Linked DNA regions of Homo sapiens: region 2 is linked to region 1. The links come from fine-mapping of genetic effects on gene expression. A gene starts in region 1. The other region holds a variant in brackets. All regions are shown on one strand. Distances are from middle to middle.

What was found. PIP is the estimated chance that this variant, and not a neighbour inherited with it, causes the effect.
Region 2: its variant is fine-mapped to the expression of ONECUT3 in testis (GTEx, PIP above 0.99).

Annotation. Positions count from the first base shown.
Region 1 is chr19:1,751,636-1,756,009 of GRCh38, forward strand. It overlaps ONECUT3 (one cut homeobox 3), which reads left to right and starts at 1,871. Exons shown (of 2, transcript NM_001080488.2): 1 at 1,871-3,219. The coding sequence starts at 2,028.
Region 2 is chr19:1,778,648-1,783,021 of GRCh38, forward strand. ONECUT3 (one cut homeobox 3) reads left to right here. Exons shown (of 2, transcript NM_001080488.2): 2 at 1-2,341. ATP8B3 (ATPase phospholipid transporting 8B3) reads right to left here. Exons shown (of 29, transcript NM_138813.4): 29 at 3,428-4,374. Among named protein-coding and RNA genes, the nearest start is that of ONECUT3, 27 kb to the left of the region's middle. The variant T/C (reference allele first, on the strand shown) is at 2,437.

The sequences.
Region 1 (4,374 bases):
GAAGATGGGTGTAATTATGTAAACTCCAGAAATTATACCTGAACCCTGGAACTGGAAAGTTTAGGGACCGACACTTCAGGGGGCAGGAGTTAGCACTTGGGCAGATGTAGGAATGAAGGGGGGAACTCTAGGGCCACCACCCCCCCACCTTGGGCCAGAGACACCCGGAAAAATTGTGATTTGACTTCCCCCTCTCTGGGGCTGAGAGAGGAGAGTATGCCTGGTAAATAACAGGCACTTACTAAATGCCGAGCCCTAAGCAGCGAGTACTAACAGGGGTCCCCTTCAGCCCTATCCCTCCCCAGGACTTGGATCAGGCCACCTCAGGCTGGGGGCCCAGATCATTCAGGCCCCCTCTCTCTCTGGCTGTTGTGGTCAGCATAGACTCACCTCCGGCTCCCAGCTGGGCAGGCTGGAGGGCACCCCCTCCCACACCAGAGAAGGGGAAACTGAGGCACAGAAAGGGCCCTATTCCAGAGCCAACCTAGTCTTGGTTCAGAAAATCGCATCTCCAATGTGTAGCCACGTCTACAGGGGCCAGGAAATCTGGATGCAGGTGCAAAGCTGGGGCCGGGGTTTGCCCAGAAGGTTTGCACCAAAGGGGAAGTGACAGCCTGACTGTGTCCTCCCCTCTTCCTTCAGCTTTGAGCCCTGATGCAACCCTCTGAGATGGGGGTAACTGGGGGCTCCCGCGAACCGACTGCCTGACCCATCCCCTTCCTCTTCTAGAAAGTGCACAAGCGTTACCCCGGGGGTGGGGGGGGCAGAGGCAACGGGGAAGCAGGAAGGGGCTGAGGCTGGTTTTGGACTCTGCACCGTAGCCTCTGGCCTACAAGACAGAGCATCCTCTAGATTCTGGTCTGGCCCCTCCAGATCCGCAGCCCTGACCTTACCCCACTGGCGGGATCTAGTCCCCTGGGGGTCTCTCTGATTATAGGAGCCCTTCCCCCATCTATCCCAGTTCCCAGGGGCCCCTGGGGCTCACCTGTCTCCAGGTGCTGAGAAAAAGGAGACCCCTGCCTCCCCCCACATTGAAGAGAAGCCCCAGGGACAAAGAGGAGTTTGCACCAGCGACGTCTCAGAAGACAGGGGATCCAGCCTCAGCCTCCGTGGGCTGGAGGGTGACAGGGGCTCTTAGTGGTCACCCCCAGGCTCCAGTGCCTCCAGCGGCCGCACTGTAAAAAGGCCCTGCAATTAGAAGGGGCCTTTGGCAACCCCGAGGCCGGGCAGCCCATTGTACAGTTGGGGAAACGGAGGCCCAGGTGCCCACACATGGGCAGAGGCTGACCCCTGGGGCGCACGGAGGCCCTGACCTAGCCTTAGGACCTCCCTTTTCCCCCACTTCCTCCACAAAGAGGTTGTGGGAAGGGGGCTGTGACTCCGTAGGTGTGAGTGGGAGTCGGGGGAAGCTGAGCTTGCAGTGGGGATCTAGCTCCTGGGGGTCTGTAGGGAACGGGGGGGGGGGGGGACACGTACATTACAGGCGACCGTCCAGCCACACTCCCAGAAACTCCCTGGAGATGGACTTGGGGGTGCCAGGCAGAAAGCCACATCTGGGACTCTGGAGAGAATCACACAGAGACGCGAAATCGGAGACTCTGGGTCGAGGCCCCCAGCCCCACCTGGGCAGAGTCTGTCCTCGGACCCCCGCCCGCTGTCCCCCGGGTACGGCCTGCCCCAGCGGGCGCGGGCGGGCGCAGTGGCCAGGGACGCCGAAGCCCCAAGTCTGGCCGACTTCGGCCTGCTTGGTGCTCGAGTGGGGCCGGGGCGGGCGGAGAGCGAGGCTGCGGGAGGCAGCGGTGGCAGGAGCGGGTGGGCGGGGGCGCTGACGTCAGACCCGGGCCCGGGCGCCGGCGGCCGCTCCCCTGCCACATCCTGGTGGCCGCGCTCGCAGCCGGGCCGGGCCGTGCGCCGCGCAGCCTGGCAGCCTCGCGCGCAGCCACCGGGGAGCGGGCGGGAGTCATGCAGCGGCCTTGAGCACTAGGGGCCGGCGCTGAGGAGCGCGCGCGGCGGGAGGGCAGCCGAGCATGGAGCTGAGCCTGGAGAGCCTGGGGGGCCTGCACAGCGTGGCCCACGCGCAGGCGGGCGAGCTGCTGAGCCCGGGCCACGCGCGCTCGGCGGCGGCGCAGCACCGCGGCCTGGTGGCGCCCGGGCGCCCGGGCCTGGTGGCCGGCATGGCGAGCCTGCTGGACGGCGGCGGCGGCGGCGGCGGTGGGGGCGCCGGGGGCGCGGGCGGCGCGGGCAGCGCGGGCGGCGGCGCGGACTTCCGCGGGGAACTGGCGGGCCCGCTGCACCCGGCAATGGGCATGGCCTGCGAGGCGCCGGGCCTGGGCGGCACCTACACGACGCTCACGCCCCTGCAGCACCTGCCGCCGCTCGCGGCCGTGGCCGACAAGTTCCACCAGCACGCGGCGGCCGCGGCCGTGGCCGGGGCGCACGGCGGCCATCCCCACGCGCACCCGCACCCGGCGGCCGCGCCGCCCCCGCCACCCCCGCCGCAGCGTCTGGCGGCCAGCGTGAGCGGCAGCTTCACCCTCATGCGCGACGAGCGGGCGGCGCTCGCCTCCGTGGGCCACCTCTACGGACCCTACGGCAAGGAGCTGCCCGCCATGGGGTCGCCGCTGTCGCCGCTGCCCAACGCGCTGCCGCCCGCGCTGCACGGCGCCCCGCAGCCCCCGCCGCCGCCACCACCCCCGCCGCTGGCCGCCTACGGCCCGCCAGGCCACCTGGCTGGGGACAAGCTGCTGCCGCCCGCCGCCTTCGAGCCGCACGCCGCGCTGCTGGGACGCGCGGAGGACGCACTGGCCCGCGGGCTGCCCGGAGGCGGCGGCGGCACAGGCAGCGGCGGAGCGGGCAGCGGGAGCGCCGCGGGGCTGCTGGCGCCGCTGGGCGGGCTGGCGGCGGCCGGGGCGCACGGGCCGCACGGGGGAGGCGGCGGCCCCGGCGGGAGCGGCGGCGGCCCCAGCGCGGGCGCAGCGGCCGAGGAGATCAACACCAAGGAGGTGGCGCAGCGCATCACGGCGGAGCTGAAGCGCTACAGCATCCCGCAGGCAATCTTCGCGCAGCGGATCCTGTGTCGCTCTCAGGGCACGCTCTCCGACCTGCTGCGCAACCCCAAGCCGTGGAGCAAGCTCAAATCCGGCCGCGAGACCTTCCGCAGGATGTGGAAGTGGCTGCAGGAGCCAGAGTTCCAGCGCATGTCGGCGCTGCGCTTGGCAGGTAGGAGCGTGGCGCGCAGGGCCAGACCCTGGGGGCGCCGGCTCTGGACTCCCGAGCACCTAGCGGGGCGGCGGCCGATGCCCGGGGCCAGCGCCCCAAGCCCCGCCCGTGCGCCCCGGCAGCCCGGGACCCCCTATCAGGAAGCTAGACCGCGATCCGCGCCGCTGCCCGTTTGTACCGTTGCCAAAAGGGAGAAAGGGATTGTGCCGCCTCCCCGCCCCCCGGTCGCCGCTTCTGCCCCTTTCGGGAGCGCGTAGGGGTTCTCTAGTCCTTGTTAGACTGCTGGGAGGCTCCGAGCCTCTCCCCAAGCAGCCCTCAGGGAAGCTCATTGTGTGTGTGCGTGTGTGTGTGTGAGCGCGCGCCTGTTGGGGGGAGCTGTGTCCCCGAACGAGCTGCTGTTGTCGGCTAAGGTGCCACTCCCCTCCTCCAGAGTGGGTGGAGAGGGGCTGTTGAGCCCCCAGCCCCGGGCCACAGAGCTCCGAGACGTTGCGGCGGGCGCCTGCAGCTCAGCAGCAGAGGCCGAGCCCGCGCTCATCCCCCCACCTGCCCCAGCGCGCGCTTCTTTGTAGTTCGGCCCCGCGATCGATACCCCCTCCCTCTCCCCTCCGGCCGCTGGCAAAGGTCACCCGAGAATGGCGGGGGAGGGGCGGCCCCGGGGACCCTCGGCCCGCGCCGCCCGGAGGCCTTCACACCCCGACCCGGCGCCCGCCCCGCGCAGTTTGGTCGTGGCTCGGGTGCGCGCGCCCCTGCCCGCCTGGCTTTGGGGTTTTGTGTCTCTCATGTCCACTTCTCTCCTCTCTCGGTCGGAACACACTGGTATCTCTATGTTTTTCTCTTGCTCTCCGTTTTGCTCTTGTTCCTGCTCATTATCTCTTCTCCCTGTCGGTCTCTCCGCCTCTGTCTCTGTCTCATACTCAGCCACCGGCCCCCTGGGGACCCTCCTCCCTCCTCCCTCCCAGCTGACAACAGCTAAGTCCACACCTGCCCTCTGACAGGCAGCCCGGCCAGGCCCCCATTTCCTAGGTGGGGGTGTAAGGGTGCAGGAGGGCCCCTGGCCTAGGTGGGGGTTTCTTTCCCTGGTGGTGCTGGGGAGGGGGCTGTCCACCCGGGCCACAGGGACAATAGCCGCGGCGGCTGGCGCCTGATCGATCGCTT
Region 2 (4,374 bases), 27 kb after region 1:
GTTGTGGAATGTTTTAGCTATGCTGAACTGTGGTCAGATCAGGTCAAGCCTCTTGGTCACAGAAGTGGCCCAGCAGCACTTTGGGAGGCCGAGACAGGAGGATCGCTTGAGGCCAGGAGTTTGAGACCAGCCTGGGCAACACAGCAAGACCCCACTTCTACAAAAAAAAATAAATAAAGTGGCCCAGGACTCCTGGATCCTTTTCAGATATCTTCGTATCACACACACACACACACACACACACACACACACACACACACACACACCCCTACCTGTTTCCGGACCCCACCCCAAACTTGGCCAGACCCCCACAGAAGGCTCTATCCCCGACCTGCCCGCCGGCCCCTCAGGCCCTCTCCTGCCTCCCCGCATGCCCACTTGGCTGTCACATACCAAAGAGCATGCGTTCTCCATGCAGGGATCAACACCTCCAGCACAATTCCTTCGAGCCTTTGACAATTTTCTCTGAAATACCTCAAAATATTTAATGTATAGTTTATGTGATTAAAAAAAAATCCTTAGCTAGTTTTTGGAATACGTGACTTGAAGCTTTATACCGTTAAATTATAATTTTGCAGACGATGGCATGTCGTTTCTTTGACGAGTTCCGTGGGAGACGCATTGAATGTCAGGGCTGGAGACCAGAGGGAAAGTTAGAGGGAGCGTGATCGCGAGAGAGACTGCGGCAGAAAGGACCAGTGGCGTTTACAGATTTCTTATTTAAATGAGTCCTTTAGGAAAGAAAGGAAGAGAGAGAGAGAGCGAGCGCAAGAGAGAGAGAGAGGGAGAGAGAGGGAGAGGGAGAGAGAGAGGCAGAGGTATACCTTTCTGTTCTCTGGCTTGTTCTGTTTCTTGTTTTCTGGAGTCATGTCTTATAAGAGTATTTATTATTCTCTGTGTTCTGTGTTCAAATGTAATTTAAGAAAAAAAAAGGAAGAAAAATGCAAAAAAAAAAGACAAAATGGAATTTGAGTTGGTGCATGACTAATGTACTCTTTCTTGACGCTAATTGTAATAAAGTGGTCAGGGTGGGGGGCGGGGGGCGTGGCCCGGTTCCGTGTCGCATCTGTGTGTCTGGTGCCTGATCGGTGCTGTTCAGTGGTTTTTCGTTACTGTTTCTTTCCTCCTTTCTAAGGAACTGTGTCCAGCCGGGACAGGTGGACGGGGCCCCAGGTAGAGGGGGCGGGAACAGAGCCTCAGTAGCCGGGTCTCCTCCACCTGCCTGTCCATCTCCACCCGAGATGCCACCTGCCTGCCCCAGCCAGGCGGGAGCCACCGAGCGTCCCCCCCTCAGTTCCTGGTTCTTGGGGGCACTCTGGTGTCATCGATATCTTAGACCCCCCCAACCCCCCATCACCCGGTTGCTTTCACTCTAGCATGAATTCCCAAGTGTCTTGTTCAGAGGAGACAGACAATCAGCCTATTCTTGTCTTGTTGCCCAGGGTGGTGGGGGACGGGAGTGTGCCCCAACTTCCTGAGATCTGAAGGACCCTCCTGAGGGCCCCAACAGCAGGCACCAGCACCCCCTCCCCCCCCACCTCCACCCAGACAGCCTCGGCCTCCCTCCCTGGGCTGGGCATGAGTCCGCCTTTCTGTCCAGCCCGGGAGGCAGGGGGTGTACGCCTGCAGAGACCCCTCCCTCCCAGCCCACTTTCGGAGCCTACAGAACAGAGGACTCCCCAAAATCATCAAAGGGGGCTCTGGGACAATGTCCTCTGCCTCTGACTCCTCTTGTGCCATGAGGCCACGTCCCTGAGCCATCCCCAGATAGTCCCTGGAGGTGGAAAGGGGCACAGATGTGCCAGCTTGGGAACAGAGGCTGGAGGAGAGGGCGGCAGGGGAGAGATGAGAGGGGCCGCTTTTGGGACAGGCCCCAGTAGGGGGGGGCGGGGTAGCTAAACGGGGTGCTTCTCACCCCATAAAGCAGCAAGCCCTGGTCTGGAGGGCTGGGCCTGGGGCTGAGGGCTCAGCTGACCTCAAATCTGAAATGATGCCGGGGCCAGGATGCTCCTTGCACCAGCAGGAGCTTGGGCCATTTCACATTCTCTGCCCCAAGCGGTTTAAGCAAAATCAGGCCAGTAGACTCCTGGGGCTCCTCCTCGTGGCCCTGTCAGACCACGCAGGGGCTGGTTTTGGTGGAATGAGCTCAGCCGGGGGTGACGGAAGAGCCAGGAGGCCCTGCGGCCTTGAGTGTTTTGAATAGACTGGAACTGAGGGCTGCTTTCAGGGGAGACACCACTTGGACCCTCCAAAGTCCCCTCCCCTCCAGGGACAGGGGAGAGAAGCCCTTTTCCACCTTCACCCTTGGGCGACAGGCTTAAAAGCTAAAAAAAAAAAAAAATCTCGTCATTGTTAACCATTGCTGTGCTGGGTTTGTTGATTTGTTTTTCTTCAATAAATTATTTTCTAGTCACTCACCTGGGCGTGTGTGTTAGC[T/C]GACGGGTCGGGCACAGATAGGGGGCGGGAATGGAACTCGCCCACCTCGAGGCTGGGGAGGGAGGACCGGAGTGCAGGGAAGACGGACTTTGCTTCCACCCAGCTCGCCCCTCTCTGCTCTGAGTCCCGTCTTCTTCCTGGGCCAGTGGCCAGCTCTGAGCCTCCACAATCCACACAACTCCACCACCCACACAAGTCCACCACCCACAGGGAATGGTAAGAATCAGAAAGAGGCCAGGCGCGGTGGCTCACACCTGTAATCCCAGCACTTTGGGAGGCCAAGGCAGGCGGATCACGAGGTCAGGAGATCAAGACCATCCTGGCTAACACGGTGAAACCCCGTCTCTACTAAAAAATACAAAAAATTAGCCAGGCATGGTGGTGGGCGCCTGTATTCCCAGCTACTCAGGAGGCTGAGGCAGGAGAATGCTGTGAACCCGGAAGGTGGAGCTTGCAGTGAGCCGAGATCGCGCCACTGCACTCCAGCCTGGGCGACAGAGTGAGACTCCGTCTCAAAAAAAAAAAAAAAAAAAGAATCAGAAAGAAAAGCTTGGCGCCTTAGAAGGAAAAGCTTGGCGCCTTTGAGTCAACCAAGCCCCAAGATGCACACCTTGTCAGGACCTGCTTCTGTGACATCACTGCTCATTGCTTTCTGGAGTCTAAAGTGAACGGAGGCCCCAGTGAATGAAGGTGTATTTGAATGGGAGAAACCAGGGCTTCCCGATAGAGGAAGAAGCTAGATGGTACAAGAACTGGAATTTATAAACTTTCTTGGGAGGGGCCAGCTGTCAGGCAGCGGGGGAGCCACAGCTTTTAATAAGCAACTTTTGAGAGCAATGAAGCTTTACCCACATTATCTTACCCCAGCATGAAGAAGGAAAGTTTTCCCTGCAAATACCCGGCTGGACCACTAGAGGTCAGTGTTTTGATTTTAAAAACCGGGAAGGAATATTCCATCACAAAAAAAGTGTAGGGAAAGAGGGAGCCTGAATTAGCGCTGGGGTCAGATGGACCCTGGTTTATTAGAAAAAGAAAAGCATGTGGAGTCCTTGTCTTTAGAGGAAGGCCCCCTGCATGCTGGTTGACTTGCAGCAGAACTGGCTGGAGCTTCTTCTTCCCAGGAAGGACATCTTCCTGATATGCCAGCGTGACTCCTTTGGGCTCGAAGATGCCTCTTCATCAGATGGGTCTAGGGATTCAGATGCTACGTCACTGCTGAACCCTGGTCCCCTCCGCAGAGGGCAATGACTGCTCCTCTGGGGGCAAGGATAGCTGCTCCTCCCCGGGCACCAGCAGCCACTCCATGGATGATGATGACTGCTTCTCCGCGGGCCACAGCTCCACCTCCATAGGCTGCTCGCTCGTGGACGTGGACGATTCTTCCAGACTTGGTGGCAGAGTCTCCACCTGAGATTTGTGGGTCTTGTCTGGAAGTGGCACCGTCCCCTCCTTGGGGGTGTGAGGCTCCTTTTGCCAGCTCTTCCGGAACGGTGTGGAGGGCTTCAAAAATGCTGACTTCTCCTCCGAGGAGTCTGGCTGGCTCTCCAACGTCAGCTGGCCTGAAAGAAATGACTGGCTCCCCAGAGGCTGTGGCTGGCTCTCAAATGACGACAGCTGGCTTTCTCTGTGCAACAGTGATTTCTCCTGAAAAGAATGTGACCTCTCCTTGGTCAACAGCAACTTCTCAGGAGAAGGTGGCCTCTGCTTGGGTGACAATGACCTCTCCTGTGCCCTTGGCAATTGCTCTTGGAAAGACTCAGATAGCCTGTTGCTGCTGGTGAGCACATATTTGGGGAGGGCAGGTTGGTTTTCTGGATGAAGAGCGGATTGTCTATCCATAGAAAATGATGAGCTAGGTGTAGGGGGGAGCTGTACTTCCTGGGAGGACACCTGCCCCTGTGGCTGGTGCTTCTTCTTCCCCAGGAAGGACATCTTCCT